Linked DNA regions of Homo sapiens. The protein of the gene in region 1 interacts with the protein of each later gene in a pairwise test. Each region holds a gene or a part of one and is shown in the gene's direction. Other genes may lie near its edges. The genes, in order: ODAD2 and NR4A2.

Region 1 (16,704 bases):
CGGGAACTCTATCAATGAACTAAGTAAGTGGCCTCCAAACTGACGTACACATGAATTTTTTTCAAAGGGTATGTGGGTATAAGATGGTTTACGGGAAATCAATTTCCAAATTCCAGTTCTTTCAAAAAATTTTTTCTAAGAACGTTCCTGTGTGCAAAGCGTCATCCCGGTTTTCTTGTTCTACCTTCCTTTTTACAGTCATCCTCCTTCCACTGTACAAGATTTTGAACTATATTCCAGTCAGTGAAATAAACAAATCATCTCACCATAAACCCTGATTTACTTATGTTCTTATGAATAAATCACATTGTATGGTAAAACTGATTTTCATTGCAAATAGTTTATTCATCATTTCATTATTTGAAAAGGATAATGCCCGTGGCTTTTATCTCTTTAATAATATTACAAAGTTGAAGTGCAAAATACTACTAGTCACCCAAAGAATGCATCCCTTCTCAAAATAAGAAACATTCTCCCTTAGCCATGTTCTCATTTGGTATATGGACACATGATTTACTAGGCATCTGGAAGCCATTCTTTTAAGACGTCTTCAGTGTTTCCTTTGGTGTTATTGGGAGACATCACCCGGATATTATTAATCCTCAGTTTGTTTTTCCAAAATATCAAGTCTCACATTAAATCCTTTATCCTCCATGAGGTTTTCTGGAGTAATCACTTCTTGGCTAGACTACACATTTTCTATATCAAATAACTTTCCCTACATTCCAAGATATTTTGCTGTGTGTTTCGACTTTTAAAAAATCCAGAAAAAGTTCCACTTGACATACAATGAGTTCAAACATTTTTAAAGAGTAAAATATATTCCTATTTATTTTTTAGATAAAAAAGAGAGCTTAGAATAAAACAGTGTTTAAATACAATGATTTATAACAATATTAAATAATATTTTAAATAACTGCATAAAAAAGAAGCAAATTCGTACACTTAGTCATTAATTCTGCTCTTCATCCTAGATATTCTTGCTAAGAGGCTGGAATAGGATAAAGCGACCAAACCACCATGGTAATATAATGGAAATGATGACCAAGATCAGAACATATTTGATAAATGATGAATGATATGATGAAGAAGGGTGCTTTGGCAGATTGAATTGTTGGTCTCAATGATTTCTTCACTCTCTCACAGTGATGTCATGTCTCTACACTCTTGCCATGGCTTCATGGTTGGCAAATAATAGTTCCTCACACTTTGACTTTGGGCTTGACATATGACTTGATTTGGTCAATGGGATGTCAGTGGATATGATGCAATCAGAGATTTGGAATGTCCATGGAAGTGATCCACCATGATAAGAACATGTCACTGGTAGTCACGCCTCTGAATCTAGGTTCCAGAATGAGACCTGTGGAGCAGATTCACAACCTGCAACCAAGCCCAGAAGAAATATAGCCTGAGGCAGAGCCTCTGAGTCAGGCCCAGCCTAGATCAGCCAAACTGCAATTGAAACTCCAAATGTCCTATAGATTCTGGAGTGTGAGCATAAATACACACATGCCACTGAGTTTTGGGGCAGTTTGTTATGCAGTATTGTTGTAGCTGTCTTTGACTCTCACAGAAGCTTCAGCTCCTTTGACGGTCTGTGTTCATCAGGACTGAATCTATTTAAGCCTTTGTGATGATTAGCCCAGCCTGGATAATGGAGAGCAAGCCTTCTACAAAGTGGTTGATGCTGGTTCTTCTTGAGAAGTTGATTTGCTCCTGATTGTTCTTTTCCTGAAAGTCATAGTGATGGACGACAACTCTTACCATTGTCTTCAGCATTGCTCAAACATTTCTACATTTCCAAATTACATGCTTAAACTGCCATTGTTTTCCTTATTTTATTTTGTTTAATTTTAATCTTTTTTTAAGAGACAAGATTTTGCCCTGTTGCCGAGGCTGGAGTGCAGTGGTGCAATCATAGCTCACTGCAGCCTTGAACTCCTGGGCTCAAGCAATCCTCTTGCCTTAGCCTCCCTAAGTGCTGGGATTACAGGAATGTCCCATTGTATCCAGCTCTGATTTTTCTTTTTAAGAGATTATCATTGACTTCTTACTCTGGAAGAAGATGGTATAATTCTGTTCCATCACTCCTTCCCCACTCTACCCACACACTTGCCCTATTCCAAGACTTGCATATTTGATTGAAAAGACTCTTATATGTGAGCACCTATAGATCTTTGCTTTCAGGCTGGTCAGTCTCAGATCTGCCTGCTGATGTATACTGGGTTTCTAGTGCGAGGAAGGTGACCAGGAGAAGGGGTTGAGGGGGCTCTCAGCATTCAGCATGCCCATTGTTTTAGTACAGTGTTCATGGCTGTGCCTGGTGCCCTGGGTTATAAACTTGTCTAATGAGAAAAAGAATACAAATGGGTTTCTGCTACCCTTTGAACAAGACTTTCAAGCAGTTTTCCTGTTTTCAGCCCACCTCTATCCTGGCCGTAAGAGATGATTCCCAAAAGTGTGAACAGAAAATTTACAGAAGACAAAATACTAAAATTAAGAGTACGTTGAAATGCTATAAATTACCAGTGATACAACCAAATAAATTCAAATTAGAGCAAGAATGAGCTATGAAATTCAGAAGACTACTTCAGTGCTGGATAGTTCACGGTGAGAAAAAAAAATATCCAACACTGAAGATAGAGAACAAATTGACGAAAACTCTGAGAAGCAATCTGGTGAAATTCATTAAAAACTTTAGAAGTATTTATGTCCCTTGACCCAATTCAACTTCTAGGATCATATACTTCCAAATAATAATAAATATTTGAGAATAAATATACTCATTTCTGGGTTATTGCTAATAAAAACCAACTAAACTCAATGTCTAGCAATATGAAATTATGACAGATTTGTATGAAAGAATCTTTGTAAATATCAAAATTGTTTATGTCAAACTTGATGATTGGGCAAAGAAAATTTAATTTGCAGTTAACTGGAAAAAGAAAAAGATGCCTGGAAATTCTAAGTCTTCCCAGAGTCTGATTCACAAACATATTTTTGTTGGCTTTTACCCCTTGGAGCATTTAGGTTTCATCTCTCTCTGATCTGCTAAGCTAGTTTAATACTTTTGCTTTCTATTGTTCACATTTTGTTGACATGTTTTGTCTATTTCTTCCTTCCTCCCATTCTCTTTCCCCACTGTCATTTTAGTGGGCTTTTGGGATGTGCACAATAACTGTATTTGACTGGAAGTTTCGTAATGTTGCACGTGGGTTTAAAACACCATTGAGCCCATGACCACTTTCATCATTTCTAGAGGTGTTGACCAAACCGAGTACAGAATATACTTTCCTGGATTTATTTCCTTTTTTTTTTTTAAATAGAGTACTGAAGCTCATAACATCCTTATCCTGTCCCCCAAAATTCAATTTGAGATTCCAGTCATTTTGATCATTTTCTTGCCCAAGTTTCCTAGTCAGAAGGCCAGCCAACTGCATTACATGTAAATACTACATAAGGATTGGAGAGAACACTTTTTCTTCATGAAGTTTCTTCAAGCCAAAATGTTTAAGGAAATTCTACAGCTTTATTTCAGAACCAAAATCATTTTGTTTGATATATATGAAATAACCTATTATACTTGGATATTTGATATATGGCCTAATTTTAATTATATATAAAATTTAAATTTACTCATAGGTTCTACGTTCATTGTCTCTTATACCATCCTAATTTTTGTTACTACAGGAACATAGGCTCATTTTAACATGTTAAAAGATAAAGAGGAAAATAAATTTAAAAATTAACAGTTCTTCCCCATCCATTCACTTCCTAAGGCAATATATATACGCATTATTGATCTGTTGTGTAACCATCCACAGTTTGTACGTATACCTAAGAAAGAGGATGTTAGAATTGTTTCGCTGGTTCAAGATACAATAGACAATTCATTCCACAGTGGGGTACAAGGCTAAGATACAAAACTGTAAAAGCTATAACTGGGAAGTCAATTACCTGACTCACTCACACTGAAGTTATAGAAGGGAAATGAGTGGATTTCCAGGGAGGAGCTCTTTGGAGAGTCATCCAAGGCATTGCCTCTCTACTCACTGCCCTCTTGGCCCCCAACATCAATTCAGAGGGGAAGGGAGAAAAGGGACTTCAAGGGACTACTCAGAGGGCAAAATATATGTCCTGTGTGGTTGGGGGTCGGGGAGGACAGAGTGGACAAGTGTCTGACTCCCAGCTGAGAATTCTTGGGGTTAAGAGACAGGCTGTGTCTGGTGGCTTTGATGGAAAAGAACAAGAGAGCTTCTATAGTGATGGCATCGAGCTGCACTGCTAGAATTTGCTGGGCAAATAATGTGTGAGTACATCCCATGGATCAGATTTAGGCTGTTGGGGTGGGGGAAGGGAAATTCACTGGTTGGGGGAGATGGAGGTGGGATGGCAGCTATAGGACCTCAGCAGACAGTAAACTGCCAGATTCCCAAGACTACAGCCAGAATAGAGAAGCTTGTTCTGGGTTGGAGCAAAACACAAAGGAAAGGACACCAACCAGGCAAGGTTTATGAAGAACCGAGAAAAATACCCACAAGAGGGACAGCCAGCCTCGGCTTTGTTCAGAGAATGCAAAGCTAGCTTATGGCAGGACCAGACAATTAAACAGGTTCCTTGTTCCTTTTTTTTTTCTTTCCCTGTTCTTTTTCACCCAAAGGGTTAGAGTGAACCCCCAGGTAGGAAATGGTGAAGACAAGCTAGAAAGAAGAAAGTGATCACACATTATAAATGTCCTTTGCCCTCAGGCTGACACTTTGTCTGGTCTGGGATGCTTGCCTGATGGGATGACCCAGATCTCTGTTTCTGAGGGGTTTGAGCCCTTAGCTGCCTTGCCTTGATCATGCTGTGGTTACTGTAAGCCATGGAGGAGCAATGAAGTGAATTCTCAGGGTCCCTGGGTTCTAAACATCTTCTTTCCTGATGGTAGCACCCTAGCTCCCATGCAATCATGGCCAATCATGACCTAACGGGTGTAATAACTCCCCCACTCCCCCCCTTTTTTTTTTGGCCTGCTGGTTTACTTGCATGAGGAGCCCAATGTAGCCAGGTGGTAGTAACAGCCTTAAGTTCAATGGAACCCTTAATCTATTCCCTGATGGATGGAGTCTCCCCATGGCAAGTAGAGCTTCTAGTCTGGCAGAGCCCAAGGTTAGTGATAATTGGAAGCTCAAATTCCCTAAGCAGGTAGGTCACTGAGAGCTCTGGTGAGAAGATTCACTCCTTGTTTTGCACACCTAGGAATTCTAACAATGAAGGAAAACAGCACTGCGTATCACATATCCACTGTTAATTCTGAGCATATGCCACATCTTGGAGGATGGAGACCCAGCCCTAAAAAGAGTTCTGCCATACTAGCACCTTACCTGAGCCCTCAATGTGTCATTCTTCCGTGCTATCAGGCTGACTGTCTCTAGGTGACATGGTCCAAGGTAAGACTGGTGGCTGTCACAGTCACGAGCCTATTGTTGTATCTTTCTTTTTGTTTGTTTTATTTTAGATTCAGAGGGTACATGTAAGAGTTTGGTACATGGATACATTGCATGATGCTAAGATTTGGGCTTCTAATAATCCCATTGCCCAAGTAGTAAACACAGTACCTGATAGGTAGTTTTTTAACCCTTTCCCCCTCCCTCCCCATTTTTGAATTGCCAGTGTTTATTGTTCTCATGTTTGTGTCTGTGGTGCCCAATACTTAGCTCTCATTTATAAGTGAGAACATGTGCTATATGGTTTTCTGTTTATGCAATAATTCACTTAGAATAATGGTCTGCAATTGCAAAGAACATGATTTCATTCTTCTTTTTGGCTGTGTAGTATCCCATGTTGTATATGTACCACATTTTCTTTATCCAATCCAACCATCTTTATCCAACTCAGATGGGCATCTGGGTTGATTCCATGTCTTTCATTGTTGCATCTTTGATGTCTCAAATGAGTCTCTTTTTCTGAGGTATACATTGTTGTGGTGAATCTGAGGTAATCATGTGGGTGAATCAGGCTTTTTTTTTTTTTTCCCAAGACAGGGTCTTGCTCTGTTGCCCAGGCTAGAGTGTGGTGGTGCAATCACATCTCACTGTAGCCTTGAACTCCTGGGCTCAAGTAATCTTCTGCATAGCTAGGACTACAGACATGTGCCACCATGCCCAGCTATTTAAACAATGTTTTGTAGAGAAGGGGTCACACTATGTGTCCAGGATTGTCTCAAACTCCTGACTTCAAGCGATCCTCCCATGATGCAGACATTTTGATGGTGGTGCTGGCGGAGGCACTGTGTGCAGAGAAGGCAAACTCACATTTGGAAGACGTGTCAGCCCTAGTAGGGAGGAAGCTTTTTGCCACCTCCAAGGTAGAAGGGATATGATGTAATTGACCTGCTACCAGGCCCCAGTTGGTCTCTCCAGGAATGGTGCCATATTAAAGGTCAGTTTCTGCTGTTGGTGGACTGGAAACTATCAGTGGCATTGGTCAGACTGGTGTCAGCAAGAAGGACCCATGCATAGCCTCCATCCCTGTTGCCTTCTACATCTCTTCTTATATTTGGTCATCCGGTCTCAACACTTTCAGTGAAGGGGCACTTAGGTCTACTCCAAAGTAGTAGATCTTCCCAGTTTCTACTGTTGGCTACTGCCCTAATAGAGCCATGGAGCCTTTTAGGAGGTGTGGCTGAAATGCGAGCTTGATAGTGGGGCCCCATGAGGGTGGGGTGCCATCCTACAGGCTGCAGTATATGCCCCAAATCAACAGCCATTCTATGGGGCTATGACTCCTAAGGGTAAATTGCATGGGTTCCAGAACCAAGAGATGGAATAAGTGGCCAAGTTTACCCATCATGTGGGAAAATTTGTGCTTCCTGTCACCACAGATCTGGGCTCTGCACATTTATATTTTCTTAAGATTTAAAAAATTTTTATTGTAGTAAAAATGTAAAATTTACCATCTTAACCATTCAAGTCTACAGTTCAGTGGGATTAAGTACATTCACATTTTTGCACAACCATCACCACCATCCATTTCCAGAACTTTTTCATCTTCCCAAACTGAAACTCTGTACTTATTAAACAATAACTCCCGACTGCCCCCTCTCCTAGTCCCTGGCAAACACCATTGTACTCCTAGACTACTTTTGGACTCAGTTTCTTCTTTCACTTAATAAAAGAAAAGGAGCACTGCTGGCTAATGGGATCATTCTCTATGTGCAGGCCTTCTTGCATATAAGTGATTGAGTTTATTGTAGAGAAAGGTACTAGAAAATAGAGTTGTAGAAAGAAAACAGGTGGAGACATAAACTGGACAAGGTTTTCATGCTGGGAGTCCTATCCAAAGGCTTCAGCAGTCCTGACGCAGGTCTGTCCAATTCTTTTGCATCAGGAATCTGATCTTGCGAGTCATTTCTTGCTGTAGGACTGCCGGCAGGTTTCATAGCTTTCCTGCTGTCAACAGCGGCATGGCTTCTCATCGTACCCCTGATGGTATCCCCGATGCTTAATGTCCTCAATGAGTCCATCTACAGTGAGGATTCCTTTGAGGGTCCTGTACCCTCCACGGCCCTTCCTGTACCATCATAGTCCTGGCAATGAACTTCAGATGTTTTACCATGACCTTGGATTTAAGTCTACACTCTGCAGGGCCCCATGCACTCAGTATCCAGTGAACCTGAAGCCTATTCTGCACATTTAGAGGTCATGGCTCCTAGAGGAGAATGTTCCACCAAGGGACATAAAACTTTAAGTTATGGTGGCTATTTCATAACTTTGGACTCTTTACGCAAGAGACAAAAAGGCAAGTGAAGGAGTCATGATCCCAATAGAAGAAACTGCCCTGGATCATCAGGAAGAGGGAGGTTGCTGTTGCAAAGTGGGGTAAGGATGTCTTTTCCCAGTTTTGATGGTAAAGGTATAGAGTAGTCACCACCTGAGAAGGGCATGATGCCAGAAACTCAGCAGTGAGGGTCAGGATCACCCCCACCAAGGAAACCATCTAGATCAGCAAAAGTGCTAGTGAAACATGCAGGGAATCTGGAATGGGCAGAAAAGGAGGGCAGAAATGGATACGTTTTGGCTTGGAGACCAACTGCAGAGCCAGGGCTTGCAATTTTGTCTCATCTTTCACTTGTAAATTTCCCCAGGGAAAGCTGACCACCAGGATTCCGGAAGAGCTGCTCCCAGATACCGCTCTCAGAGCTGTATTGCATGATGCTAGTGATCTCAGCTGTGCAAGGGGTGGACAGTAGGGGATGCAGTGGACTGTCAAGATATCTGAACCCATCCCACCTCTCCAAGACCAAAGCACTCCTGCCCTCAGCTGCTGGGGATTATGGGCAGATGATAGCCCTCAAATGAAAGAGTAAGGTTATGCCCTATTCCTGGGGACAGCCTGCACCCAGGGACTGGCTGATAATGATCAGTTGATGAGAAGATCTAAAGGTCCAGCCCCTTTGCCTCAATATGGGAAAACTGCTGGGCCATCCCAGCTTCAGGGCTCTCTGTGGGATGGTTGTGGCTGCATGGCAGTTCAGCTTCTCTCTCGGTCTAATCTCCTTGCCTTCACTCTCCTGAGGGCACTTCTCAATACATTTCTTACATGCCCTTCTCTATCTCAGAGTCTATTTCTCAGGGGAACCTGAGGCCAGGTGTCTTATTAATAGTCTCTTTCTTTCTACTCATGCATTTCTCTAGTTTACTTCCACTGTGTAATCAGAACAGCTTCTTAACAAGAGAAATCGGAGCATGTCACTCCCTGCTAAAAATCTTCCAGTAACTTTCATTTATTCTTGGAAGAATATTTCAATTGTTATCATGGCTTAAATGTTCCACCTCATGCAGTCCTTCCCACCGATTCAGTCTCTTCTCCTTTCTCTCCTTTGCTACTGTGCTTCATGCCAGTGGCTCTCCTTCTAGTCCAGGAATTCTGAGTTGAGTTTAGTAGGCTCCTTTTTTGGCTAGGACTTGAATTGGATAATCGAGTTCTGCCAATGGAGTGCCTGGCACAAAATGGCATCCAAAAAGCATTTATTGAGTAAATGAATGTCTAGGAGATTAGAATCTAAGGAGAAGGAGCCATTTCATTTCCAGGCCGTGGGCCTTGGTCCACAATGCATCACTGAGAAATATCAGAGGGCAAAGGGAGGCAGCTGAGGCTGCACTTCTCTGACTTTTTGTCTTTATCTATGAGAGAGGGTAGAATCTGGTGAATTTGGTTTTTAGGACTTCGTAAGACTTCATGCAATTTTCTCTCATGGGAATTTCTGTTGAAAACTCCTAAAAAATTCCACAGAGAGGCAATTCCGCCCTATAATGAGACTTACCCCCATTACGACAAAATATAAATGACTGTAATTCCCTGCAAACCTCAGGAGGTTTATTTCATCTGTCTTAGTCCTTTCCTGATTGAGGTACTGGATGCTTAAACCAACCTTGCCTCTTACTTTCTCCCTGGTTATGGCCTATAAATTCTTAGTCGGCTTCACTCTGACACAGATGAATGGGCGCTGGAAGCCTGCTGATCACATCTTTACATAATGCTATGTGTGACATTGTGTCCCCCTAAAATCGTATGCTGAAGTCCTAACCTCTAGTGTCTCAGAGTGCAACCGTACTGAACATAGGGTTTCTATAGAAGTAATCAAGTTAAAATGAGTTCATGAGGGTGAGTCCTGATCCAATATGACTGGTGTTCATAAAAAAAAGAGGAAATAAGCCAAGAGGAGTGTCTCACACCTATAATCCCAGCACTCTGGGAGGCTGAGGCAGGCAGATCACTTGAACCCAGGAGTTCAAGACCAGCCTGGGGAACATGGCGAGACCCCATCTCTACAAAAAAAAAAAAAAAAAGCCCACAAAAATTAGCTGAGTATGGTGGTGCATGCCTGTAGTCTCAACTACTTGGGAGGATGAGGCAGGAGGATCACTTGAGTCTGGGAGGTCGAGGCTACAGTGAGCCGTGATTGCACTATTGCACTCTAGCCTAGGTCCTGTCTCAAATTCAGAAATTTGTGTACAGAGACAAGCACACAGGGATAACATCATATGAATGTGAAAACAACCATCTACAAGCTGAGGAGAAAAGCCTGGAATCGATTCATTCCCCATAGCTCTCAGAAGGGATCAATCCTGCCAACACCTTGATCTTGGACTTCTAGCCTCCAGCACTGTGAGATAAGACATTTCTGGTATTTAAGCCGCCCCAGTCTGTGATACCTTGTTACAAAAGCCCTAGCAAATTAATGTGTGCAATCTGTGTCTGAACTCTCTGATACATGAGAGGAACAGATTTGCCCAAGCCAGGGTGGATGGTTTCATAAGAATCCCTGTAGATCGGCAGTCCCCAACATTTTTGGCACCAGGGACCAGTGTCATGGCCAACAATTTTTCCATGGATAGGGTGTGGGGGAGGGGATGGTTTCAGGATGATTCAAGCTCATTACATTTCTCGTGCACTGTATCTCTACTATTATTACATTGTAATATATAATGAAATAGTTATACAGCTCACCATAACGTGGAATCCGTGGGAGCCCTGAGCTTGTTTTCCTGCAACTAGACGGTCTCATCTGGGGGGGATGAGTGACAGGGACAGATCATCAGGCATTAGATTCCCATTAGGAGCTTGTAACCTAGATCCTTCGAATGCACAGTTCACAATAGGGTTCATGCTTCTATGAGAACCTAATGCCACTGCTGATCTGACAGAAGGTGTGGCGTGTGGGTGGGGTCCCTGCTGTAGATGACGTAATGTTGCGGAGGTGGACCAAAAACTATCAAGTTTTTCCCAGGAGCCTGTGGCAGATTTTCTCTAAAGTTTCAGTGGACAGCGCTGCACCATGTGCTTGCACTCTAGCCATGGGCAGGGCTGGTAAAGGCCTCTGGTACAGCAAACCCCGGGTGTGCCCTCAGTGATGAAGGCTCTTTCCAAGATCACGGCTACTTAGAATCCTCAGGCTGGTTCTATTAACCCTAAGAAAATGTGGGCCTTGCCTTTCTGGTGCTTGGTGAAGAGTGTCAGGAAGCAAGGCATCTTTGACTAGGCGATTCATGAATTTAGCTCCTTCTACGTGCCAGTCATCCTTCTAGATCTTAGGAGTACAGACTTGAAGGAGGCAGAAAAGCTCCCTATTTTCATAAAGCTTACCTTGTAGGGGTAGCAGATGGGCAACAAGGCAAAGACAAGTTATGGCCAGGCACAGTGGTTCATGGCTGTAATCCCAGTGCTTTCGGAGGCCATGGCTGGAGGATCACTTGAGCCCAGGAATCAGAGGCTGCAGTGAGCTATGCTTATGATTATGTCACTGCACTCTGCACTCCAGCCTGGGTGACAGAATGAGACCTCGTCTCAAAAAAAAAAAAAAGAAAAAAAAAAAACAAGTCATGATAAATCCTTCAGGGAGTGACTGGGCCCAGGTAGTGTTTCATCACGACAAGGAAAAATTGGAAAGAGGCGACTGGGACTTCTTCAGATTTAAATATTATTAAGTTATTTTTGCTTGGAAAATATCCGGTAAAATAAATTCACATTTTGGCATCAGATTAAGCAACTTGGCATGAATTTGGCAAACAACGACATAGTTGCTCAGATCTTGGTGGGTTCTGGCTTTTTCCAGCTTTGCAAACCAAGGTGAAATGTCCTGAACTTGGAAGATCTCTGGCTGGCATCCACATTGGACCCAGTAATGCTCCCTTATGTCATACAGCTGATTAAAATGTGCAGAGGAACTAAAGTACCCACAGAAGCTTCCTTGCTTCCAGGACTGGGACTACTCCAGGATCCTTCCGAAGGATGCCCTCTGCTCCTCACCAGGTTGTGACCTGCATTACCGCCACAGGTGTGATGCTGTTGTCTCAGACTGTAATCCACCCATTTTTAAAAGGGCTTCTCTGTATACCTATTAGCATAAGCCCCTTTCTCACTGGTTGCAAGTCTAAGCTTCTCTGCAGGTAGTATCTCCTTTAGGTGAAACTATTCCATTCCTAACAACTTTCGCACTTTCAAAAAGAGAAGAAAAGAACCCAAAACAGGCCAGGCATGGTGGCTCATGCCTGTAATCCTAGCACTTTGGGAGGCCGAGGTGGGTGGATCACTTGAGGTCAGGAGTTCAAGACCCACCTGGCCAACATGGTGAAACTTCGTCTCTACTAAAAGTACAAAAATTAGCCGGGCATGGCGGCGCATTCTTGTAATCCCAGCTACTCAGGAAGCTGAGGGGGGAGGATCTCTTGAACCCGGGAGGCAGAGGTTGCGGTGAGCCGAGATGGGAGGCAGAGGTTGCGGTGAGCCGAGATCGTGCCACTGCACTCCAGCCTGGGTGATAGAGCCAGACTTCGTCCCCCACCCTCCAAAAAACCCAAAACAAAGGACAAATATCTATACCTCATATCCCTACGTGTTTGCAGAAAGGTTCTGCTTTGAGCTGAATCCGTATAATATTATGACAGGTGATATCCTAACATCATTCCACATTTGCCTCTTTGGCATCCGGAAAAGAATCCAGTTTTAATTCCTAAACACCCCATCATCCTAAGTGCTCCGGCATTGGTCCTTAAACACCGTGTCCCCCCACCCCAAGATAGTGCATTCTTCCCCATCCCCCCCCACCTCAATATTCCCACTCCTTTATCCCTCACTGGTGTTCCAGTTGGGGCTCTTGCTGGTAGGGTGTCTAGAGGTGGGGTCAAAACCATCTTAATGGACAAAGGTAAAGGCCATTTAAAAAAAGAGATGGGGGACATGTTTTCATTTCACTCCGATCCTCTGCCCTATTGAAGAGCGCTTTCTGCTTTCCCGGTGAGTATCAGAGTATTCTACCATATTTGTTTTTTTGGAGAGAAACATGTAAGCCTCAAATATCCTAGGAGAAGCCCTATGCTATTTGGGGGTACTCAGTGAAGATTTCAGGTACATACAACGCACTTGTCTGGAAGCCTATGGAAAAATGTAAAAAGGGGTTTCTAAGGAATATTTTCTGCTTCCTTTCTGCTCCATTTTAAGTTTTCTGCTAACTTGCCGCCGACCCCGCAACTGCTCACGACCTCTGTCAAAGTCAACCTTTCCCACCGCGTGGAGTGAGTTAGGGTGCACACTCGGGAGTTGCATAAAAGTGTTTGAGAAAGGGAGATGCAAAGTTGAATAAAAGTGTTTCCCGGGAGGGGCCGAGCGGAAAGCAGCAGGTGGCCGGGGCGGGTGGAACCCAGCGCGGGCGCAGAGCGTCTCTGGCGCGGGCATACGGTGCAACGGGTCCGCGGGAATCTTGGATGCGCGGAGGTCCCGAGACCAGGGTAACGGACTGGGCTGCGGTCGCGGCCGGGTGAGGCTGGGAGCGGAAGGCGGCGGCGGCGGCGCCCGGGGGAGGGCACGGGCCCTGTAGGCCTCCCACAAGGGCGCCGGCGTGCGCGGCCGCAGGGCGCGCAGTGTTGACCCGCGTCCTAGCAACAGGCGGGCGCCGACTGCGGGGGGCAGGGTGCTGCAGGTGAGTGCGGCTGGGGGTCTCCACGCTCACCCCCGCAGGGGTTCTGCAGCCGCCCGCGTGGATCGGGAAACAGAGGCGGCTCTCTGGCCCCGCCGCTGCCGCTCTCGCCTGCTCCCCTTTCCCTCCCGGGGACCAAGACCCGCCCCCTTCCCTTCTCTCTCCCAGCCCCATCTCACTCCTTCCTCCCCGCGAGACCCTGCCTCGGCCCTAGGTTGGGGACCGTCTGCTCCTCAGTCCCTGCGCCCCTCTCTGCACTACCTCGGCCCCATCACCTCCCGGATCCGCTCTCCACTTCTCCCGCCGCTTCCCTGCCTCTCCTTCCCCCAGCCCGTCTTTCTCCTCCGCCCTTTGCAGCTCTGCCTCCCGCTCCCAGCGTGGTTTTCGCCGTCCCTTCCCTCCTCGTCCCCTTACCGAATCCATTCCTGGAAACTTAGGGTCTCAGCTCTGACGCCCCCTTCTTGTAACGAGTCTGGTGGGGGCCGTCATCCCACACTAGGCTTAGCTTTGGTTTTACTTAGGGCCCTGTTCATGTCATGTCTAAAAGTTCGATTTTCTGTCGGTCTTACTGAGTAACTTCTGCATTCTCAGAAAGCAGTGTATGCGCGGACTCCCCGTGGATGTTACCAACCACATTTCATAGATCTCAGAGCTGATGGCTGCCTTTCCGTAGCCCCCTAAAGAATTCGGTTGTGCTTCTGTTTAAGTGTTAACGATGTGATTACCGAATGGGTTTCATTTCACTAATGATGCTGGAAGCTTGAAATTGACCTTTAGAAAGAAAAACAATCTGTGGTATCTATTGGATAAAGAGAAAAATGAGTGCTAAGTGATTCCCAGTTTATGTAAACATCCCAGTTTATGTAAACACGTAACCAAAACTTTTTTCCTTTTAATCTTTAAACTTACTTTCTTTACTTCAAAGGTGTGTGCTGTGTATTTACATGGATTCATTTTAACTATGGTTCTTAAGCCAAAAGAGCTTGGCAATGGGCAGAAACCGGGGAGCAACTGGTCTTGATTTTAAAATCTTAGTTTTGAGTTATGCCGACCATTTTTGAACACCATTTATTTATTTATTTATTTTCTAATAACATTGATCTTGCCTTCTGGATTGTCATAGGCCACCCTGAGGTTTTCTTAAACTCACCAACCTTCTTGAATAAAACTTGTGCATTGCTACGGTTCACTAGACTTGGAAATACAATTTGAATAGATTCAAATGTTACATTTCTGTCAAAATTTATCTTGACGAAAATAACGATTTTGCATTTCTTAATTCTGTGTTAAGGGTCCTTCAAGAAGTTACTATATGGTATGTTGACTACCATAGCGTTACATAATCTATTTAATTTCGCATTTTTTCTTTAAAAATGTGCAAGAAGCAATCTTTATAAGATTACCAAAACAAATGTTATACTTAAGATTAAAGACAGACAGAACTTTCACCTAAGCCTTTCTGTATAAGATAAAGCTATTTGCACTTATTTCACACTATTTTACACTGATTTGCACTTATTTTACACAACAATGGGAAATTCAAGAGTCTCACACATACACATCAGAACATGTTTATGTGTTTAAATCTAAAGCATTTCTCATCGGTTAGCAATAGAAACAAAATGCTAGAATACTAAAACAAACACCCAGAACAAATTTGTGCACTAATTTCTGCACTTTATTTCATGACCACTTTGGTATATATGTCTGGATCAGTTGTTCTCCACCCTATCTGATCCAGTACTTGGTTTTTATAGCATATATGTTGTAAGGCTGCTTTGCTATCCTGAAATCAATATCATAGATTATAATCTTACATATTTAATATAGTTTTAAATATTGATAGTGTGCTAACTGTAAAATGAAAGAAAATAATTGTAAGAAAAGATTGGCATGTAAACGCTCAAGTACCACTACACTAGAATATATAGGGAAGTAGTCAGATGTCCAGCCTTACACAGAATGACTGTGAACACAGCAGCCCCAAATGCAGACTGATACAGATGTGCCATTGCAACTTAAATTTCTCAAATAACATTGCCATCAATGGTGTCATTTTCCAAAATGCTGAGCTCTTGGTAAAATTCCATGTAAAACAAAATATGTACAACCTTCTTTTCGTTTATGGTAGCTACAATTCTGGAAAATTCAGGGTGTAATAAAACTGTGACAAAATACTCTGCAATTTTTGCAAAGTGCAGAAAAATTCTAGGCTCAGGTAGTGCTTATCTGAAGTTTTTCACTTACTAGATGCCTGGAGGTTACAGCAGAATTCTTCCTTCTGAGGTACTATCCTGCACAGGATATTTTACATTGTCGGTCCTCAACACTAAAGGCCGATAATGCCCCCTTTCCTATCATGTTGATAACTAGACATCTCTATAATATTTCTATACTCTTTATCAGCAGGAAGTACTGCCCTGTTGCCATCCAGTGATCTCCTGTGATTGAATTTAATAGATAGTTCAAAGATTTAATACAGTACAGAATGTAAAATCTCCAAGTCTAATCTTTGTACTTTAAGCCTTTTTAATAATGATGGGAGTAAAAAGCCAATTTTATTCTATATTTAACCGTATAACCATTCTTCTAATATTCTGGAAGAAAGATTTTATCAATAAGTGCTATACAAAAGAGAAAAGAAACAAGTATAGATTATCTGCCAAAAAAGCATTAAATGTTCATTATGAAGTCAGAACGTGCTTTCTAACTTGGCTCTTATTTAACGTTACAGATTTTGTTACTTTTTAAAAGATCTTCTTTTACAGACTAATTTCTATTTAGCCAATGTGAAATTTGTCTCACTTGAATTGGTTTTAAATTTTACTGCTAGACTCTTCTGATAACTAATTTAGATAAAAAGGCTGAAAGAGTCTCACTTATTCCTACATCTCTCACATTAACTCTTAAGAAGGTTGTGAATTACAGTAAAATGTCATCTGGGCAGGATATACAGGCAGGGAAAATAGTATTTGGATTGTCCAGATATTCTGGTAATAGGATCAATGTGTCCTGTATCAATTTTTAGAAAAAAAATTATATTTCACAATACTGTTCTTATTCTATTTCTTTTTTAACTCAGAATGCACTTGGGGAAACCAGAGCTACCAGAATCATGTTCTTCAGTCATCATTGTGATGATGCAGATATTGTCACTGTAAGAAAGTCGGGATAACAGTATTCAGTTTAATAGTGTAATTCTAAACAATGTGTGTCCTGGCTGAAAGGAATGTTTGTCCCTG
Region 2 (16,403 bases), on another chromosome or scaffold:
AGCTGGGGAAGCTCGCTGTGGAGCGTCTCGCACGTGGCAGGCAGGCAGAGAACTTGCTGCACCTTCTAGGAAATTGCAATCGATTTGTAATGCACTTTCGCTAATTGGGAGTTCAAAATTAAACTTTAATAAAGCATTCGTGTCGTCTCGTCTAATTGTGAAAGCTTCCATCCGTCCTGGTAGATAGACTCTAAGTCTCAAGTTAATGGCGCTAAGCTAGATTTTCCCCCCAAGTACAATTCCGTCAGCCGTCGTCGGCGCAGCTGGATTTCCGTAAGGTACAGATGTTGCTAATGACAGCTTAAGCACGGATGGGCAGATAGCATACGGAATGCAACATGTTGCCATATGGTTCCTTTAGCCTTTCACCTCCAGGGATATCAATCACATATATTCTGGGAGGAACTTAATGACTCTCTGAACAGCAAAATGAATTACCTGGTACAATTTATATCCCTTGACCTGATACGTTATAACAACAGGAAGATAGCATCTCGCAATTTCTGTGGTATAAATTGAACTACAGAGCTACATTTAAAATTCTACATCTATTTGTAGTTTAAGGGGCCCTGTCATATTCTGGCTGTAAAATCTGTTTCTGTATTGCCCATCTCCTTCCCCCTCCTACCTCTGGAGGAAGCAAAATTTATAAAGTTTAGCAAAACTGGTGTCGGAAATTGCCAGTCAACTGATTAATAGATGAAGTATGGAGAAATGGAAAATATGACTTCCAGAGCTACTTACTTCAACAAGAATTAGCCATCTTTAGGAACACCATACTTTTAAGCGTACAAAATTAAAGAACTCCAGAAAATGTATTTTCTGCTAGTTGTTTCAGTATAGCTCCTAAATCTATTCATTAACTATTTGAAATTCTCCATTTATTTTCAAACTTCAACCATTCCTACACTTTGGAAATTACAGAAGACAGTTCTCAGAAATATGAAATACAGGAAATGTAAGTAGCACCTCCTCAGCGAACCAGTTTCTGTACCCACAACCCCATGCACTCACTATTTATGTAGCTTAATTTGAATCATGTACATGGTGGTACTGGTAGTTTGCTTTTTCCTCCCAACATGTCAGTGACAGCATACTTAAGTTGCTGCTTCTCTCCTAGTGGAGTGATTCTGCAATATTTCACAGGTCTCATTTTTAAATATCCTGGTGACTAATAAAATGTTTTAATTGATTGCCTTTAATTTCAGATTATAAACGTGGTTGTCTTACTGTATCCTTTATTTTCTATTCACTAATACAGATAGATCACACGGGAAGACAATACTTTAAGGGCAAAAAGTAAAATAACTTACTAGAATTTCTAAACTTTATGTTTACTTTTACCTACTAAGGGATATCTGAAAGGTAGAGACATACTTTTAAAACTTTTTGCTTCTGGCACTATGTAAACATTAATTCATGTAAACTAATGACTAGCAGAATGCCTAAGATAGACATGAACAGTCTGAAAAAGTATTTACTTTCAGTCATGTCAAGTTTCGGAAAGTGTTAACATTTTGAAAGTTTGTCTATATATCATGTCCTTTCATAATTATTGTGAAATTATAAGACGATGCTTCTCCTTTTTTTTTTCCTTTGTAGTGGCTGATTTGTTACCTAGTGCTTTAGTTCGATAATTTTGATAATTATTATCAAATAAGATCCTTTGTGTGTGTATATAGGAGAAAATCTTATACAGAACACATTAAGATATACATAAGTTATGGCAATCTTGTCTTCTGGGGCTGTTTTTTAAATCTTTTAATGGCTGAGGTTTTATTTCTCTTTGTAGCACCAGCACTCGATGTGTCTTAAATGTGATCAGTAGTGATGGTGAGCTTGTCAATAATGACTCCATCTCCATGACTTGTGAATAGGCGGTGAGTGTGTCCTTTAATCAGTCACACAGAACTTGCTTTATAAAGCTGTTATTGTCATGAACAGATATTGCAGTCTTGTCAGGCCCAGTGATTATTAAAGTGTTCCTTCTTCAAAAGCCAGGCCGAAAGTCCTGCTGTGCTTCATTTCACAATTGAAGTCCATTAGTAAATAAAATCCCAAGCCGCACGATTTGCTGTTCCTCAAGTTATAGGCTTACATATATTTCATTAATAATCTTGGGCCCTTTTGTAGACATAAGTAGGTATATTTTTGGTATATATATATGGCAACAAAAATAAAATATGTATCTTGCAGCATGACTTTTATTTTAAATGAAGATTTGATGGATGTCCATTGTTACTCTAAATGAGGTGGCTGGCTGCCAAGGGAAACCCTACAGTCAGAAAGTACTAGAATTGTTACTATCTACAGGGAATCACTTTCTATTTTTTGAGTTCTCAACTTCACCTCCTCCTTTCAATAGTGCCCCTCCATATTGCTAATCTGAGAATTAGTCTGAATATGAAAACTTTTGAAAATATGTTTGTGTTGTCCAAGAAAAATTTCACCAGTGTTTCTGGTTGCCTGCTGGTTTTCAGCCTTTATCTTGAGTGGGCATGTTTATTCTAACTGAATGAAGAATGACTATTGAATTAGGTATATTCCCCATGCCAAATAATTTTAACTGTGATGTAATCCTAGCCGCTTTCTTATTTTTACTCCCGAATAAATTTAAAATATTTAAGATTGGCCAGGTGTCTGTTTTTCTCAGGGTAACATGGGACAGCTATGGATAGGCATTAGGCCTCTCATAGAACTCTTCATTCAAGTGAGTGTGGCTGAGAGGAACAACCAGGAAAGAGTATAGTGCCCCATTGCACTTGCCCTGTTGGCTTTTCAAATGCAAAATCCACGTTGTTGCATTTGGAAACTTGTTTCTCTGTTTTATGGTATTTCATTTAAGAATTTTTTTTAACTGCCAGTCTGTAAATATTTAACCAGCCAAGCAGGAAACAGCCTTTTATTCTCGACTGTATACAGCTTTTGTTTTTATCTGGGTTAGCATGGGTGCCATGTAAATACCATATAAAATTTGACTTTGGTTGTCCTTACTTTGAAGATTGACAGGGGTTTCTTTAATTAATCTTGTTTCCTTTCATGTTCTGTATTGAGATATTGAAATACAGTATTTTATACATTTATAGGATTGTGTTTGCATTTATTTAATTTATGTTTCTTTTTTTGAAGCATGTAGCCTTGAATGTTTGTTCTACCCTTTTTTTTTTTTTCACATCATTACTCTGGTGCTGCTTGATGTAACTTGATTAGCTCCCTCCCCAGTCATGATTGGTAATTAAAATAGGCATTAAAATTAGTCACTTAGCAATTTTGCTGTTCAATTGGCAATTAAATTACTTAATTGCAATTAAAGTCCTAATTTTAATTGGCAAAATGATAGATGTAGATTTAAGATAATATGTATAAATACTTTAATAAGTGTCTATATAAGGATTACTTAATTACTCAACTTCAAGTTTATGCTGTTAACTTTAGAACTTTTAAGTGAGCAATGAAATTTATATTACATCTATTCAAAGGATATGGTAATTAGATTTATTACTTATCACTATAAGGGTCCTTGCTTTAAGTTACTTTTGTAGTGTTAAAATTGTAGGCTTGATAATTGCAGAATTCTGATGAGAAAAAGGGCATATATGTCTCTGTTGCAATATTATCAATACCTTCATTTTTAAAATTAAATTGAGACATTCCATCCACCAATTAGTCTGAGGAAAAAATCAAAAGTGGTTATTTTATCATTAAAGATAGAACAAAAACTAGCCAGCTTGTGATTTACATATAAAAACTTGCAAAATGTATGTATTTTATCTAAATTTAAATAAATGCTATCTAATACTGGTAGTGTTATAATGCTATTAACTACTTTTAGAATTTGCAGATATTTGATGTTTTCTTAGCATGTAGCAACTTATTTTCATAATCTTTAAACTGTCTTTTAGGACTTTGTACATTTTAGTGATGCCTATGTTTACTAAAATTAGCAATGAAATCTAAAACCAAAGTTATTCTTCTTTGCCTAATAAAAAATAGTTCTTAAATAAGAAAATATTAAGTGGTTAATTTAAAAGCAAGTATTTAGGAGATGGTTACTGGGTGTCAAGTATTAACAAAAAATGAAGGATTTTTATTATGCAAAATACTTTTTGAGTGGCATGAGGTTTTACCATATGTTCAGTTTTATAATTTCAATTTACAAGAAGATGCTTCCAGAAAAAAGAATGCTGTTTTTTTTCTGCACATCTTTACACATTTCTAGTACTGAGTTCTGTATCAAAGAAAGAAATAATTTTAAAAGTATTTGTGTTAAGTGGTTTTTGGTAAAAATCGGCTGAGAAATACTGAATAAAAGCTACAACTATCCAAAATGTGAATATTAACAAAGCAATTGACTTGTTCTTTAACCATCCTATGAGAAAGGAACAAACAATTTGGTCAATTACTATCCTGTCAATGCAAATGAAATGGCAAAAGCAAAACAATAAAAACACTTTCAGAAGTAAAAACTAATTTTGTATTTTCAGAAACAGATTTTTTTCAAAGTGAAAATTTATTTCTTGTATCAGTAATGTGACTTACTGCCCAATGGCAACAAATGCTGTGAATGAGTTTGTCCAAATGTAATTTAAAATATATATCTTGTAATGCTAAAAATAGGTTCTACAAAGTAATTTTATTATGAAAAATCTTAAAGTTGCCTCAACTCGTAAAGCATAACAGGTATGTCTGTTTCACTATATCTGCATTGTAAGGTCTATTCTGAATTCATTTGGGAAGAATGGTGAAATAAATCCCTAAAGGCCTCTTTCCTATGCATTAAAATAGAAAATCCTATGGGATTACATTCATGTTTGCTTTCTAAATTATGCCAAAAGCTCAATTTTATTAAGTATAATCTGCCTAGCCATGCATAAAATAAACTACTTTGGTTTAGATGTGAGTATATGTATTATTTATGTTGATTTTTAATGAAAATATGTTTACATGTACCAATATGTTCTGCCTAATATTGGTTAATGTCATAAAAGATAATATAGTAACATTACTTTCCTAAATGTTTTTCTGTGGTCATCCAATAGTGTTTCTTAATAGTAATGCTTTTTAATTTATTTTAGTTGGTTTCAAAAGAGGATAGGTGCAATTTTTACTCCCACTCATTTTAAAAACTGTTAAGAAAATAGACCTTCATTGTGGGGTAACTTTACACATTTATACATGGCAATAGTTTAAAGTTATATCGGCTGCGGGGGCCTGAAAAAGCCATTATTGTCATTTTAATTGAGTTATAAAATACTTTATTTGAACTATTTATGTTCAAGAATCTTGAAGGGTTACAGTCATATAAATGCAGAATTTCAGTTTCTTTTAGCCTAAAGCATCGTTTTAACATTTTCTGAAAGGTTGTTCAATTCTACATTTTGATTCCATATGTGTAATTAAATCTCTATGCACAAAAGCATTCTCTTATGTACTAGCAAATATACCCACAGGAATCTCCTTCTAAACTATAATTTATTTAACATGTAATCATAGGATTTTAAAACATGCTTTCATTTTTCCAAACTGTATGCCAATTTGAACTTCTTGGTGATAAAATGAGAGATTTTATTACCAGTTTGATTTTTTCCTTCTGTGACCTAACAGTGAGTTAAGCATGAGCAGGAGGAAATAAAGAAAATCTTTTGTGAACCTAATCCCATGTGTTAAAACTGTTTCCCTTTTGGAGAAAATAGAAGAGAATCAAAGATTTTTAGTTATTTATGAATTCCAGCACAATATGAATATTTGGGCCTGCAGCATTCTCTTTGGTTTAGCTTAGGTAGTAAATAGCTTGTGTGTGTGTGTGTGTGTGTGTGTGTGTGTGTGTGTGTGTGTGTGTGTGAGTGATTCTCTTGAACGTTGTGGAGTCAGGCCCCCTACTGACTGGATCAGTCAATTACACACACATTGGCGGTGCTACTGAGACATCGTCCCATCAGAATCTGGTGAGGAAAACTAGTCTGGGGTTTTGAGCGTGGCCTTTTTTTTTTTTTTAAACACTTCTGATCTATATGCTGAATCCTTTCCAACCCATCTCATCCGGGCCTTACAGAAACCCTAGCCTAAGAAGTAGCTTATTCAAAATTGGTTTAAACGAGTTTAACAGTCTTACATCCGGCGTGTCTTCCTAAGAAACAGTAAAAGCTTCCCAGAAACCAGAATAGGACTTTGAAGAGGAGAGAACTCTTACACAGATGATGGAATAGATGAGAAAGGTCTCCCCTTTCTCTCATTTTAATTTATATTTAATTTTATATTTAATTATATTCCCAGTTAATAATAATTGTTATAATAAGCTGCTGTGAAAACGACCCTTCATTCTTGGTTGCATTAAGACTTGGACAAAGGCTGTTATCAGGAAGCCGCACTCGACAGGTTGTTATTAAAGAATAAGGCATCATATTACAATGTTTGGCTTCCTTGGAGCTCACTTTAAGAACTCCAGGACACTTTTCAGCTCTCTGGGGAGGCATTTTCAAATTGTCCCAGGCTCAACCCAACCTAAACTGAATGTGTTTTTAATGGCAATGAGGGAGGGGGAAGCGTGCAGAGTGAATGTATCTACTTAGACGGGAGTATGTGTATGGAGGCTGGTGGTTACAACCTTCAAGTTCTCCCGGCCCCCGTTTTCCTAGGACTATATTAAAAAATAATAACTGCCACCCCGGCGTGCCTGTGCTTGAGTTTCCGACTGCCTGAAAATAGCGGCCGGGAGCCTGGCCCACCGCGGGGATCAAGGAAAGCTTCCCGTGGCCGCGCCCTGCTCCCTCGCGGAAGGGGAAGGGAACCCGGGAGGGCGCCTCTGAGCTGGAGTTGCTGCTATTTTGGGCCCAGCCTGGCCGGTGCGTCAATGCCTGCGCCCCTGCGTCACCGCCACCCCCACCCCCTTCCTTCTCCCCAGCTCTCCAAACTCTCACTTTTTCCCTTTCGTTCGCATGGAATCGCTTCTGCCCACGGGGCGCTGACGCTACCGAGCTCATGCTAATATGCTATTCTTCGCCCTCCCCTCCTCATCCCCCTACTCACACACCCTCACCCGCCACCACAACCCGCCCCCCCCACCCACTTCCTGGTTTTATTTTTTTTCTCGCGCCCGCTAGGGCATCGCCGAGCAGCGGCGGCGGCGGCAGCAGCAGCGGCAGCCGCAACATCTGGGGGAAACTTAAGGTGGTCACGTAGGTTTCCCCGAGGCTGCGGCGCAAAAGAGCCCGCGGCTTCCTGGGGCAGCCGCAGGGCATCTGATGGCAACGCCTCCCCAGCCGCCGGCGAGCTGGGGGCAGCAGGGAGTAGGCAAAGGCGGGGCTGCAGATTAGGGTTGAGCAGCCCGGGATCCCGAATAGTTCCACGGAGCCATCGGCCGGTACTGAGAACACGAGTAGGGGGGCAAGTTGCAAAAGGGTCCCGGCTGCCTGGAAACGAGCCACACCGAGAAAGGAGGGGCGGCTGGGACGCTCTGCGCGAGTAGAAAAGCGGGGGCGGCTCCGAACTCTCCCTCCCAAGGCCCAGCCGCTGGAAGCCCCGCGGGAGAAGCCCTAGGAAGCCCTCCCAGCTCCGGCCGGGAGACGGGGAGGGGGCTTGCCCTCCGGAGCTGCGGCGTTTCCTTTGCTAGAAAGCTCCCTGCGCTCTCGGCGTGGCTAGGGGAAATGACTTGCAAAGCAGAAGCGGCGGCGACTTGGACGGCCGCGGGGGTGGGACACGCTCCCAGAGCCAGCTCGGGCCCCTCTCCTGGCTGGGCTGTAGGCTCACACCTTACGCTTTGCGGAGACGCTGCCCCCAATCCCCACCCGCTTCGCTTTTCTTGTCCAGTCTTTCTGGGCTCTAAGATTGAGGCTGTGATAGACCTTGTGTTTCAAACGAAGATCGATTTATTCCCTTAAAACTCGTGGAAGGGGTACGAGTTGGTGGGCACAGAGGAGTATCGAAAGTATTAGAGTTTGCAGAAGGTGGGAATCAGAGTACCTTTCTGCAGAAGGCGCACCTGTTGCCTGCTGCTCGGCTGCATTGTCTGCGAAAGGAAAAGGGGCGACGCTTCACTCTGACTTTTGGGGTTTCTAAAGAGCTGGGTCACGGTCACTGTCTACCCTCTCCCCTTCCTCTCCCCCCCCCCCGCAAGCACCACGTCCTCCATCGAACGTGGGCACTGCATGGAAATAAGGAAACATAGAAAAATAAGCCCTACCCCCACTCCCATTCCCTTTCAGATGGGAGTGTGGGGGGTGGGGGTGGGGTAGAGAGAGTGAGAGAGAGAGATAATTAGAATGAATATATGCCAGAAGAGGAGGAGGCCTGGGACAGGAAAAGGGAGTAAAAGGGGATGAACCGGGTAGGGAAATCCCACCCGAACTGCGTGAGCCCTCTGAGCGTCTCGTGTCATGGGACATCTGTACGCTCTTCCGCTAAGGGGGTGACGAAGGTGGGTGGGAGAGGTTAGGGCGCTGCAAGGCACATCCCATTCCGTGCGGCTCCAGGTGCGTACTACCTGGCCACGCCGGCCTTGCCTTCCGCCGGTGCTTTTGTTGCACCCTCCCCACATGTGAGCGGCCGAGCCGCTGCGCGGGCGCAGGGGCTTCGGGGAAAGTGAAGTGTCGCGACGCTGCGGGCTGCGCAGACCTGGGAGAGGTCACACCTCTTTCGGAAAAAAAAAAAGAAAAGAAAAAAAACACCAAAAACCACCCAAGCTGGCTACCAAGGTGAACGCAGAGCGGTTCCCACCTTAAAATCGGCCCTGCTCGTGACGTCAGGTCGGAAATATACCAAAGCGAGCGCGGGCCAGGAGTCCAGGGAGCGCGGCAGCGCGGCGATTGGGCGGCGGGCCGCTGACGCGCGCTGACGCGCGGAGACTTTAGGTGCATGTTGGCAGCGGCAGCGCAAGCCACATAAACAAAGGCACATTGGCGGCCAGGGCCAGTCCGCCCGGCGGCTCGCGCACGGCTCCGCGGTCCCTTTTGCCTGTCCAGCCGGCCGCCTGTCCCTGCTCCCTCCCTCCGTGAGGTGTCCGGGTTCCCTTCGCCCAGCTCTCCCACCCCTACCCGACCCCGGCGCCCGGGCTCCCAGAGGGAACTGCACTTCGGCAGAGTTGAATGAATGAAGACAGACGCGGAGAACTCCTAAGTGAGTAGATGCAGCCCATGCAGTTCGCCTTCTTTTATGCTTTTTCCTTCTTTTGCACGTCTCTTCTTTCCACTTGTGTGGGACAGGTTCTCTGGAAGTGGGAGCCAGAGGCTTCTAGTGAGAGTGGGACCGAAGGATGGGGAGTGCGTGCGCGCAGTTACCGGGGGGCATTTGTTCGAACTCCGGCTTTGGCACTAGTGGGGAGTTGGCTCTCGACAGAGGTTTCCAGGCTCCTCATTGGTGGACGTGGAAGGGAGACTCCACAGTTTGGGAGCTGAGGACTAGCCCGCGGAAATGTGCGCAAAGTTTGCTGTTAGTGAGGAATTGATTGTGGCCTGTGAACACGGAGACTCCAAGTCCTATGTATACGAGGGAAGCTGCCCACAAACTGACAGGGAGAGGAAGTTCTTCAGTTTATGCGTTGCTTGGGAACTGTGTCTCCGCGGCTGGCCAGCGCGCGATGTTTCCCGGGTATTGTTGAGTAAGGGTGGTGTTGGTAGCGTGTCCTGTTACTAAGTTGCCTGAAATTTCTGGTTTTGACATATGCTGTCCTTGGGTTTGCGAATGTATCAGAGCGAGAATATGAATATGTAAAGAGTACAGTTATGAAACTGTGGAGCTACCAGGGGGTTAATATCCAACACAGGAATATCTCTAAGGGCTGTGGGGTTCGAGTCTCCTTTCTGCTTTTTCTGGGTAATCTTCCCCCCACCCCCACCACCACTATGAAGCAAGATTGTGGGGGAGGGGAAAGAATAAAAAGAGAGGATACTGGCTTTCTTTTTTCATTAGTAATAAGATTGTCTGTGCTCTAGAATGTCTTCCAAGTGGGAACATCTGAAAATTGCTAGGACACAAGAATGCCTTGTTCCAGAAAGGCAGATTGTGGAAGGCATTATGGGGAAGGTGTTCATCTTGCTGTGCTGGGAAACACTTCTAATATTGGTGCCAATACCATATAAGCAGTATGTCCCCCCTCTGCAATTGACCTAAGAAGCTCCTGGAAAAGTAGATCCCCTCTTCCCACCTTGTGACCATTAAGCCTTGTGACCATTAAAGATGCTGAAAGACAAGTTTTCTGGAAAAGTGAACATCAATTTATCTGTAGCTCCAATCCCAGTGCTCTGTCAAAAGCACTTTAGAAGTGCGGATGCTTCCACTCAACTTGCCTTCTCAGTCAAGGCCTTTCTAACATTTTGTAAGGGGGAAGATTGTTTTCTCATTTTATATTCTTGACTTCTACTTTCTTCCCCTCTACCAAAAGAAAAGGCAATTTCACCACAAGAAAAAAAAATGCAAGAGAAGGTTCCAATGCTGTATTTTCATACTCTAGTCTTCATACTCAGGTCCTGAATTAACCTAAGATGGAAATGACCTCTCCACCTACACTGTAGCAAAGGGGCCAGTTCATTACATCATAAATGTTAAATGAGTTCATGGACTAGCTTTCCTCTTGCAGGATCTTCTCTCTGCAAGGATTTACACAGTGCAATGGGTGGTATTTTCTGTTGTTTCAAGTCATTTCTTTTATACATTCATTTTAAGTGCTATGTTTGGTAAAGGCTTCCCACTCATTTCCAATGAGACAAACAGGGAAGGCATGGAAGGGCCTGCCTGGTGAGTCTACATATGCCCAGCTGAATCTCTGTCGGGAAGAAACCCTGAAGCTTCCTGTGTCTGTATTTCAGGGAGGAGATTGGACAGGCTGGACTCCCCATTGCTTTTCTAAAAATCTTGGAAACTTTGTCCTTCATTGAATTACGACACTGTCCACCTTTAATTTCCTCGAAAACGCCTGTAACTCGGCTGAAGGTTAGTGCAACTTCATTTCTTTCCTTTACTCTCCAGAGCTCCCCAAACATCAAGAAACAGGACAAGGCAAACCCTGTAACTTAAGGTTTGCCCGACCCATCGCCTTCGGGAACAACTTTCTCATTGTGAAATTCAACTTCATTTCTAGATGGTCATTTCTAGAAAGAGACTGCTGAATCTGAGCTTCAGAGAAGAGGCTCATCTGAGTGGGATGAGTGGGGGGGTATGAGGGAGATGTTTGGAAATACCCAGGAGTGTAGACCCTCAGTAGCTTTTTAGCTCTGGGTCTTTATTTGGTTAGTCTTTCCACGCCCTAAACTGTTGTTCTGCAGCATTCTCTCTCTCCTGCCTTTCCTCTCGCGCCCCTACATGCTCTCTGACTGCCGCGGGCTGCCGGTGTAGCTCCAGGTGTACCCGAGCCCGGGAGAAAGTGTTCAGTTGACCAGGCTGAGTGTGTTATCACCCTGTTTCATTTCCAGCCATGCCTTGTGTTCAGGCGCAGTATGGGTCCTCGCCTCAAGGAGCCAGCCCCGCTTCTCAGAGCTACAGTTACCACTCTTCGGGAGAATACAGCTCCGATTTCTTAACTCCAGAGTTTGTCAAGTTTAGCATGGACCTCACCAACACTGAAATCACTGCCACCACTTCTCTCCCCAGCTTCAGTACCTTTATGGACAACTACAGCACAGGCTACGACGTCAAGCCACCTTGCTTGTACCAAATGCCCCTGTCCGGACAGCAGTCCTCCATTAAGGTAGAAGACATTCAGATGCACAACTACCAGCAACACAGCCACCTGCCCCCCCAGTCTGAGGAGATGATGCCGCACTCCGGGTCGGTTTACTACAAGCCCTCCTCGCCCCCGACGCCCACCACCCCGGGCTTCCAGGTGCAGCACAGCCCCATGTGGGACGACCCGGGATCTCTCCACAACTTCCACCAGAACTACGTGGCCACTACGCACATGATCGAGCAGAGGAAAACGCCAGTCTCCCGCCTCTCCCTCTTCTCCTTTAAGCAATCGCCCCCTGGCACCCCGGTGTCTAGTTGCCAGATGCGCTTCGACGGGCCCCTGCACGTCCCCATGAACCCGGAGCCCGCCGGCAGCCACCACGTGGTGGACGGGCAGACCTTCGCTGTGCCCAACCCCATTCGCAAGCCCGCGTCCATGGGCTTCCCGGGCCTGCAGATCGGCCACGCGTCTCAGCTGCTCGACACGCAGGTGCCCTCACCGCCGTCGCGGGGCTCCCCCTCCAACGAGGGGCTGTGCGCTGTGTGTGGGGACAACGCGGCCTGCCAACACTACGGCGTGCGCACCTGTGAGGGCTGCAAAGGCTTCTTTAAGGTGAGCAATGGCGGGAGCGGAGTAGGCAGGTAGGGAGCCCCTAGTGCCCGGGACCTCGGAGTGTGCCCTCTGCCTTGGTGCCAGTAGCCCAGCCCCAGCTCTCCCGGGACTGCCCAGCTCTCCGGGGTCCGCCGAAGCTGCCCTGCAGGAGACCATGGGCTGCGGCGGGGACTTCCGGGTGTCTGAGAAAGGGAAGCAGAAAGACTGGGAGGCCAGGGTCGCATCCCCCTCGCATTCAGCCGACCCGGCTGGCCCCCGCCCGAAGTTGCTGGAGCCGGAGTTGGAAGAGGGTCATTTGCATGTGCTAGGAGCTGTCTTCCCTGTTCAGAATGAAATTGGTTAGGACAGAGAACCGTGTCTGAGCTAACCAAGTGGAACAGAATTCCCTATGGTCAAATTAAGTGATCTCTTTATTTCGCCATCCTGATTGAATAATCTTATCATTTTAAATAGAGAAGGTCTCCAAGGAATGTAAATAATATGAATGCCCACGGATTTGTATTTACTGAGCGTCTCCTTCTCCTTCTCTTGGCATATAAAACACAGCAAGGAGCGGCAAGGTTAGCTCAAATGTTAACGCTATCAATTTTCTTCTGTTAAATGCCCTGGGGGAGGAAAAAAGAAAAGAAAGAAAGAAAAGGAAGAGAAAAAAATAAAATGGAATTGTGTGTATGTGTTTGTTTGTGGGGAGGAATCGTAGACCCCAGTCACATAACAGAAATTTTCTCCGAGTTGCCTGATTTTCAAAAGAAGAAAAAAAATGTTGGTCTATATTGTCTCCTTTTGCAGCGCACAGTGCAAAAAAATGCAAAATACGTGTGTTTAGCAAATAAAAACTGCCCAGTGGACAAGCGTCGCCGGAATCGCTGTCAGTACTGCCGATTTCAGAAGTGCCTGGCTGTTGGGATGGTCAAAGAAGGTAGGCTGAGGGGAGCTGCCGACCCTCCAGTTTGCGCCTTTAGGAAACCACTGCTCATACTCCAGCATCACGTTCCACTTCCCGGTGCTGGGGATCTCCGACTCCCCCTCAGTATGGCCTCCAGGACCCTGCAGCTGCCTGCTTGCCCGGCCTTCCCTAGAGAAAGCCGCCAGGCCCTTCTCTCCTTTAACTATACGACCCATTTGGAGGAAGACATAAAATAACCCCGCATTTTTTAATGCTTCTAGTCAGTGAAGGCTTTACAAGCACTGGGGCCCTCAGCCGCTCAGCCTGGTGCCCCGCGGCTGCGGCCTTCCCCGGGGAGGGACCGAGGCAGCAGCTGGGCCTGGGCTCGGAAAAGCGGCGCTAACAGGGCTCTTCCTTTGCAGTGGTTCGCACAGACAGTTTAAAAGGCCGGAGAGGTCGTTTGCCCTCGAAACCGAAGAGCCCACAGGAGCCCTCTCCCCCTTCGCCCCCGGTGAGTCTGATCAGTGCCCTCGTCAGGGCCCATGTCGACTCCAACCCGGCTATGACCAGCCTGGACTATTCCAGGGTAAGAAGCTGGCGGGGGGGATATCATGTGGACAAACCGACAGATGGGCAGGACCCCTCCCCACATCCGTCATTAACTCTCAGATTCAACGGGGGTAAAGAAGGCAAGCAAGGCTGTATATGCCTCGCAGCTCTGGCCAGGGCCTCAAGATTCAGATCTTCAGACAATCCATGTAGCTGGGGGCATAGACATGAGGACAGGATGGAGGAAGGAGGAGAGGGACACGCCACAGGGTTTGAAGCTGTGTGAATTCCCACTACCCCACTACCCCATCGCCCCTCCTCTTCCATATACACCAGTGCCTCTACCATGAAATCCAGGGGCTGTGCAAACTCTCCCCCTTCCCAATCTACTTTATTCCCAGTCCTCCATAGAGATAGATGCTTTAATCCTCATCCTTCCTGGCACTGTGCTGGGGAAGGATGTGGGGGCCTGTCTGGGGGTCAGGGAAGGGAAGGAGAGGGTGTAAAGAATGCCAGTGGGGTGGGGGATCAAGTGGTCAGATCCTTTTTACTCCAGCTGTGAAAAATATGCGGGCTTTAATTGGAGGAAGTATGTTGAGCAAACCTGGTAGGGACTGCAATTTTATTAAGATTTGCAAAAGGGCGTCTCAGCTCGAGGCCCACTCTGGGACTAGCATGAATACTAACATGTCAATTGTTTTGTGGAGATAAGAGTGAACGTTTCCCAGGGCTGGATGGCACTGTATTTAGTCTGTATGGAAATGGCAATTTACATATTTAAAGCAGCGACCTCGTAGCACCATCCCTAATTGAATTAATTGCCCCGGAACATCTAATTTCCTTACTGGTCAGAGAGAGGTTTAATTGTTATAAAAACCTGGCTCCCCTATTAGAAACGGGGTTAGCAATTTCACGGGTTATATATTTTAGAGAACCTCATTAAGTGCTTTTTAAAATGAAATTCCAGTTCCAGGCGAACCCTGACTATCAAATGAGTGGAGATGACACCCAGCATATCCAGCAATTCTATGATCTCCTGACTGGCTCCATGGAGATCATCCGGGGCTGGGCAGAGAAGATCCCTGGCTTCGCAGACCTGCCCAAAGCCGACCAAGACCTGCTTTTTGAATCAGCTTTCTTAGAACTGTTTGTCCTTCGATTAGCATACAGGTAATAAGGGAGGGAGGGAGACAATCCAGGGAGGCTGTGAGAGAAATCAAGAAAGGAAAAGAAAGGGAGGAAGGGAAACCAGAGGGTGGGGTAGAGAAAAAGACAGAATAGGAAATGGAAGTCGGAGAAAGGAAGAAAAAGAAAGAAAACAAAAAAAGACGAGAAGAAGCGAGCCCAGAAGCCTTGGATGAATGGAATGGAGGTGGGATAGGGGGCGTTCTTGATTGTTATGAAATTAAACCCTTTCAAGGTCCACTGGTCTACATTTTATTAACTCTTCAGTAATTAGGTGACTCTTAAATCCCTCATTTATTGCTCTTCAAGTAATTAGTTGTTTAGCTTTTCTCTCTCTCTTTTTCTCCCCTCTCTCTCTTTGGTATTAATTGCAGGTCCAACCCAGTGGAGGGTAAACTCATCTTTTGCAATGGGGTGGTCTTGCACAGGTTGCAATGCGTTCGTGGCTTTGGGGAATGGATTGATTCCATTGTTGAATTCTCCTCCAACTTGCAGAATATGAACATCGACATTTCTGCCTTCTCCTGCATTGCTGCCCTGGCTATGGTCACAGGTCAGTACTGCAGGCGCAGGGCGCTTCCCCTCCAGAACTGCCTAGCAGGATTTGTCCTGAGTTTCCCTTGTCACAGATTCTCCTTGGTTTTGCCAACTAGCTAACTGTCTTGTACATTCTTCTTTTGTTTCTGATTATGTTTTCTGCAGAGAGACACGGGCTCAAGGAACCCAAGAGAGTGGAAGAACTGCAAAACAAGATTGTAAATTGTCTCAAAGACCACGTGACTTTCAACAATGGGGGGTTGAACCGCCCCAATTATTTGTCCAAACTGTTGGGGAAGCTCCCAGAACTTCGTACCCTTTGCACACAGGGGCTACAGCGCATTTTCTACCTGAAATTGGAAGACTTGGTGCCACCGCCAGCAATAATTGACAAACTTTTCCTGGACACTTTACCTTTCTAAGACCTCCTCCCAAGCACTTCAAAGGAACTGGAATGATAATGGAAACTGTCAAGAGGGGGCAAGTCACATGGGCAGAGATAGCCGTGTGAGCAGTCTCAGCTCAAGCTGCCCCCCATTTCTGTAACCCTCCTAGCCCCCTTGATCCCTAAAGAAAACAAACAAACAAACAAAAACTGTTGCTATTTCCTAACCTGCAGGCAGAACCTGAAAGGGCATTTTGGCTCCGGGGCATCCTGGATTTAGAACATGGACTACACACAATACAGTGGTATAAACTTTTTATTCTCAGTTTAAAAATCAGTTTGTTGTTCAGAAGAAAGATTGCTATAATGTATAATGGGAAATGTTTGGCCATGCTTGGTTGTTGCAGTTCAGACAAATGTAACACACACACACATACACACACACACACACACACAGAGACACATCTTAAGGGGACCCACAAGTATTGCCCTTTAACAAGACTTCAAAGTTTTCTGCTGTAAAGAAAGCTGTAATATATAGTAAAACTAAATGTTGCGTGGGTGGCATGAGTTGAAGAAGGCAAAGGCTTGTA

What was found.
Region 2: the proteins of ODAD2 (region 1) and NR4A2 interact in binary tests that used the Homo sapiens proteins (3 or more experiments, as listed by UniProt).

The regions. Positions count from the first base shown.
Region 1 is NC_000010.11:27,995,564-28,012,267, reverse strand, and holds the start of ODAD2 (outer dynein arm-docking complex subunit 2), read left to right. Parts: upstream 1-13,188; 5' UTR 13,189-13,274; intron 13,275-13,370; exon of another isoform or gene 13,371-13,465; intron 13,466-13,567; exon of another isoform or gene 13,568-14,777; intron 14,778-16,544; exon of another isoform or gene 16,545-16,619; intron 16,620-16,656; exon of another isoform or gene 16,657-16,704.
Region 2 is NC_000002.12:156,325,188-156,341,590, reverse strand, and holds the start of NR4A2 (nuclear receptor subfamily 4 group A member 2), read left to right. Parts: upstream 1-8,869; 5' UTR 8,870-9,080; coding exon of another isoform or gene 9,081-9,111; exon of another isoform or gene 9,112-10,799; 5' UTR 10,800-10,923; exon of another isoform or gene 10,924-11,402; coding exon of another isoform or gene 11,403-11,404; coding exon 11,405-12,268; intron 12,269-13,057; coding exon 13,058-13,187; intron 13,188-13,576; coding exon 13,577-13,740; intron 13,741-14,670; coding exon 14,671-14,873; intron 14,874-15,262; coding exon 15,263-15,441; exon of another isoform or gene 15,442-15,444; intron 15,445-15,590; coding exon 15,591-15,847; 3' UTR 15,848-16,403. UniProt on the Homo sapiens protein: Transcriptional regulator which is important for the differentiation and maintenance of meso-diencephalic dopaminergic (mdDA) neurons during development.